Linked DNA regions of Homo sapiens: region 1 is linked to region 2. The links come from fine-mapping of genetic effects on gene expression. A gene starts in region 2. The other region holds a variant in brackets. All regions are shown on one strand. Distances are from middle to middle. Region 1 has its middle 21 kb from the start of HVCN1. Region 2 holds the start of PPP1CC (protein phosphatase 1 catalytic subunit gamma).

The links. PIP is the estimated chance that this variant, and not a neighbour inherited with it, causes the effect.
Region 1: its variant is the best candidate, but not a certain one, in a credible set for the expression of PPP1CC in whole blood (INTERVAL, PIP 0.60).

The regions. Positions count from the first base shown.
Region 1 is chr12:110,708,837-110,711,744 of GRCh38, reverse strand. It overlaps a transcript of PPP1CC not described here. Among named protein-coding and RNA genes, the nearest start is that of HVCN1, 21 kb to the right of the region's middle. The variant A/G (reference allele first, on the strand shown) is at 1,231.
Region 2 is chr12:110,741,525-110,744,432 of GRCh38, reverse strand. PPP1CC (protein phosphatase 1 catalytic subunit gamma) reads left to right here and starts at 1,542. Exons shown (of 7, transcript NM_002710.4): 1 at 1,542-1,780. The coding sequence starts at 1,726. RefSeq lists enhancers at 1-547, 1,309-1,817 and silencers at 1,312-1,451, 1,612-1,671.

The DNA of each region.
Region 1 (2,908 bases), 33 kb after region 2:
CCATGTTGGTCAGGCTGGTCTCGAACTCCCAACCTCAGGTGATCCTCCTGCCTCGGCCTCCCAAAGTGTTGGGATTACAGGCATGAGCCACTGCCCCTGGCTAGTGTATTTTTTAAATGAAATGTCTTAATACAAAAGAATACATAAAACACCCACATACCCATCGCCTGGGTTAAGAAGTAGAATATTACCAATAACTTAAGAGCCCGTGTGCGTACCTCCCCAGTTACATACTTACCCATCTCCCTCGAGAGTTAACCATGATCTTGAATTTGAAAGTAATCACTTCCTTACTTTTCTTCATTGTGTTTGTATCCCTAAGCAATATACTGTTAAATTTTGCCAATTTATTTATTTTTATAGAAACAGGGTCATGCTATATTGCTTAGGCTGGTCTGGAACTCCTGGCCTCAAGAGATCTTCCTGCCTCGGGCTCCCAAGTAGCTGGGATTATAGGTGCAAACCACAGTACCAGGCAATTTTTGAGCTTCATAGAAAGAGAAATATATGTATTTCTGTAAACAGTTTCCTTCAGCATTTAAAAATTTTTATTTATTTATTTATTTTATTTTGAGACAGAGTCTCACTCTGTCGCCCAGGCTGGAATGCAGTGGCACCATCACTCACTGCAACCTCCGCCTCCTGAGTTCAAGCAATTCTCCTGCCTCAGCCTCCTGAGCAGCTGGGATTACAGGCACATGCCACCATGCCTGGCTAATTTTTGTATTTTTAGTAGAGACGGGGTTTCACCATGTTGTCCAGGCTGGTCTCGAACTCCTGGCTTCAAGTGATCCACCTGCCTCAGCCTCCTTTTAAAGTGCTGGGATTACAGACGTCAGCCATCCTGCCCGGCCTAAACATTTTTATTTATATTTTAGAGAGACAGGGTCTTGCCTTGTTGCCGAGGCTGGTCTTGAATTTCTGAGCTCAAGTGATCCGCCCACCTTAGCCTCCCAAAGTGCTAGGATTACAGGCATGAGCCACCTCACCCAGCAAGCATTTTTTTTTTTTTTTTTTTTTTTTTTTTGAGACAGAGTCTCATTCTGTCACCCAGGCTGGAGTGCAGTGGTGCAATCTCCGCTCACTGCAAGCTCTGCCCCCTGGGTTCATGCCATTCTCCTGCCTCAGCCTCCTGAGTAGCTGGGACTACAGGCACCCACCACCACACCCAGCTAATTTTTTGTATTTTTAGTAGAGATGGGGTTTCACCATGTTAGCCAGGATGGTCTC[A/G]ATCTTCTGACCTTGTGATCCACCCGCCTTGGCCTCCCAAAGTGCTGGGATTACAGGTGTGAGCCACCGCACCCAGCCTAATTTTTGTTTTTCAAAACAAAAATATTTTTGTTTTGAAAATTTTTGAAATGTTTAATAGCGACAGGGTTTCACCATGTTGGCCAGGCTGGGCTCAAACTCCTGACCTCAGGTGATCCGCCCACCTTGGCCTCCCAAAGTGCTGGGATTACAGGCCTGAGCCACTGCACCTGGCCTTAATTTGCATTATTAATATTAGAGGTTATCTTTGCCCTTTTTCCTATTCTCTTTGGGAAATATAATGAGGTGTATTAGACCTCATTCTGTCTTTCATTTCACTTTAACATCTTGTTTTTTTCCATCTCTTTCCCTATGGTTTGCATTCTTGATAATGTCCTCAGCTCTATCTTCTAGTTTACTAATTTTTTCTTCAGTTGTGCTTAATCTAATCCATGCACTGAATTTTTAATTTTAATTACTACATTTTTATCTCAAGTTCTATTGGGTTTTTTGTTTTCCTTTATTATTATTATTATTATTATTATTATTATTATTATTATTATTTTGGAGTTTTTTGTTTTTCACAATCCACTTGGTCATTCTTCATTATCTATTATTTCTTGCTAATCTTTTTAAAACTTTTAAAATTTGACCAGGCGCAGTAGCTCATGCCTGTAATCCCAGCACTTTGGGAGGCTGAGTCGGGTGGATCACTTGAGGTCAGGAGTTCAAGACCAGCCTAGCCAACATAGTGAAACCCCATCTCTACTAAAAATACAAAAATTAGCCAGGCACCTGTAATCCCAGCTACTGGGGAGGCTGAGGCAGGAGAATCACTTGAACGAGGGAGGCAAAGGTTGCAGTGAGCCGAGATCACACCACTGCATTCCAGCCTGGGCAACAGAGTGAGACTCCGTCTCAAAAAAAAAAAATTATTTGACCCCATGGCCTTCTGGTCTGACGTTTTTTGGCCGGGCACCATGGCTCATGCCTGTAATCTCAACACTTTGGGAGCTCGAGGTGGGTGGATTATGAGATCAGGAGTTCAAGACAAACCTGGCCAATATAGTGAAACTCCATCTCTACTAAAAATACAAAAAATTAGTCAGGCATGGTGGCACATGCCTGTAATCCCAGCTACTCGGGAGGCTGAGGCAGAGAACTGCTTGAACCCGGGAGGTGGAGGTTGTAGTCAGCCGGGATCGCGATACTGCACTCCAGCCTGGGCAACAGAGGGAGACTCTGTCTCAAAAAAAAAAAAGTTTTATTTCTCTAAATATAATAAACATGGTTATTTTATGTTCTATCTGATTATTCCAATATCTGAAGTGTTTGTGGGTTTGTATCTATCATTTGTGTGTTTTTGTGGGGGGTTTTGCCATTCTTCTGAATGTTTCTATCATCTGTTGTTTCTATTGTTCCTCATAGTTGTTTCTCTGTGTGTGTTGTGATTTTTTGACAGAGTTGCCCATTTTCTTCACATCTTTATCCATGGGATTCTCTGCGGCCTGAATTGAAGTTGAGCTCCTCCAGAGAAGATCAGAGTTTGCCTCTGCTGGTAGACTGGGGCAGTATCAACCTAGACTTTAAATCCTCACTTGCTCACTTGACATTTTTCTTTTCTTTTCTTTTTTTTTTTTTTTTTTGAGATGGACTCTCG
Region 2 (2,908 bases):
ATTGCTGTCTTTCATATTTCTACCCTAAATGCCATTCCGATGATGCACCCTGCCCTGGAGTAGCCCAAAGTCCTGTGGACTCCAGCAAGAGCCCCCCCTGACCTCCATAGCCAGATGTTCACAGCAGCGCTGGGCACCAACTCCGAATGTCACCAACTGGGCTCATTGCCTTGGCCTGACAAATGGCACTTATGTGACTTCTGGTGGACAGAGCTGTAGCAGGGGAAAGTGAGTTAGTGCCTGAGGAAAGTGGATCGATAGGCTGAGTTCTGAAACTCAAGGGCCCTGCACCAGTAGCGAGGGGGCCCAAGTAAGGGGACATGGAGCCCGCACCCTGAGGACATTGCTTTGGAAGAGGATGCCTGGGTGGTGCAATTACCTCGTGGCATACTGAGATGGGGATTCGTGCATCCTGCACGCCTTGGGAAACAAAATGAATTTCTCGGAGAGAGGGGGCTTTGCAAAATGTAAAGCGCTGCAGGAAGCAACGTACATGGAAAGGTCAGGAAAGAGAGCCGATCTGTTTGCTGAGTGTGGGCTGTACTTCCAAACCCAGCCAAAGTCGACGCGCAGCCCCTGGAGGTGGCACAGTTTGGGGGCCCCTTGGATAGGAGTGCCCTCGGGGAGGCTGGGAAGCCAGAGAGGAATGGGCCAAAGTTTCTTCGGGTGTCTGCAGAACCCAGGACCGCCCGCGCAGCTTGCATCTTCTCTTCCCGCCCCCGGCCTGCACGCGTGAAATCTGCAAATTCCCCTTTTAACTGCTGCACGCGCTCGTTCAACTTTGCCCTGGCTAGAATCGGGATAACCGTCCCGATGATTACATAACTTTCCGAGTTCAGGGAAGATAAATCCAAGGGACAGAAATGATAAAATTTTCTTTGAGTATGGATTTTTTACCCCTAAAGTTACAGAAGTGCACAAAAAATATATATACAAATACCCATATACCCACCACTCACAATGAGTTAACTGTTACATTTTGACTTATCTGAAAGAGGGTTTTTTCTTTTTAGTTACCAAATAAACCTTTCTCTTGTCCCAAGTTCCAGTATATCTGAATCCAAAATAAGTCAACCTTCTTTTCTTTATTATTCTTTTCCATCCTCACCCCAGATTTATCTTAAAGGGTAAGTTCCAGGACCCCCGAAATCCCTCGGTGAGCTCCCACCTGTCCAGGTCTGCAAACATCTAGACTCAATGCACAAGATCCGGCGATGGCCGCAACCGGCGGTGTGCACAGCTGCATTTCCTCCCCCAGCCCCAACTCCCGCGTGCAACTTTGCAACTCTCGCTCGGGCCCGGCATTGGGGGCGGGCCTATTTACTCGGCCCGTTTGGCGGAAGGATCCCATGCGGGGACGCGGTTGCGCTCAGCCATCTGCGCCCCGCCCAGCGCCCGGGCCCCGCCCCCTCCAGCGCCCGGGCCCCGCCCCCTCCCGCGCCCCCTATGGCCCATAAAGAAGTCCCGGCCGGGCCGCTGCACTCCCCGCGCGCATCCGTGCGCCGCCCGAGGCTGTCTAAGGAGTCGGCGGCCATTTTGTTCTTCTCGTGGTTCCAGTGGGGAGAGAAGGAGGAAGTAGGGAGCGGGGTGGCAGGGGGGGGACCCGCCGCGGCTGCTGCCACCGCCGCCACCACCGCCTCTGCTCGTGGCGTGGGAAAGGAGGTGTGAGTCCCGGGCGCGAGCCGGCGGCGGCGCCGCTGCGGGAGGGTCGGCGGTGGGAAGGCGATGGCGGATTTAGATAAACTCAACATCGACAGCATTATCCAACGGCTGCTGGAAGGTAAGGGGGGCGGCGGGCGGCTGAAGGGGGAGGCGGGCCTGAGGGCGGCAGGCGGCCCCGGGGGCTCGAGGGAGGGGAGTTGGGAGGCCGGTTGGGCTTGCAGCACCGTGGGGAGTGAGCTCCTCGAGTTGGCCCACGGGCCGGGGACTGCAGCCGGAGGGAGGCCAGCCCGGGATTCCCAACTTGTCGCCAGCTGCGGACCCTCCAGGCTCCGCTCATTCATTGCACGAGGATGCAGGCTTCCTCCCGGCCGTGGAATTTGAAAACTCCGCTCCCCACCCCCACGTTTCCCGCCCCTACCCGTTTGCCCCCGCGCACTGGACGGGTCTTTGGAGCGATGGTTGGGGATCCCAGTCCAGCCTCCTGGACGACGTGTGCCGTGCTGTGCGAGATGGACTTTTCGGTGCTCGTCCTCTCGGAAGGCAGTTTGATGAGGGCATGAGTTCCGCCGGGTTTGGGGGCTCTTTTCCTGCTTGCTTTTATTTTTATTTTTCGTGGTTCTGGGGTCTTGGGGGGCCCATTTCTTGTTACTTGGTAACAAGCGTTCATGTCTCAAGAGGTGTGAGAACCTGTCTTCGCCTGCCCTCCAAATCCTTTTAAGTTGTTCTAATCTTGGAGAGGTCTCCGCGCTCTTTTCCTGAGCGTGCATCTGAAGAGGAAGCCAACGAGGCTGACGCTATCATTATCTTTCCAATGTGCCAGGCTCTGTCTTAAGCACTTTGCGTCCATGAATTATTACTGTAATCATAACTGACGCTTCTAAAGCGCTTACTGTGTGTCAGGCATTCTTTGAGCACTTAAGACAGATTTCATTTAATTCTCCCACCCATTGCAAGATATTTGCAATTTTTTTTGTTTTTGTTATTTTACAGAAGAAACTGAGATGAAGTCACTTAACCAAGGTCACACAGTTAGTGACAGTTGGATTTCAAATCCACATAGCCGGGAGCTAGAACCCTCTACAGACAACACTGTCACCTTATGTAGGAAGGAAGGTGGCCAGTGGTTAAGTAAAGGTTAATAGAAAGCTTTAAATTTCGGCTCATCTAAGACTTGTGAGGTGCCTGGCAATTGATTCATGTTGATGTGGGAGAGGGGCGAGGTTCAGCTTTTAAAGACGGAAGCTGA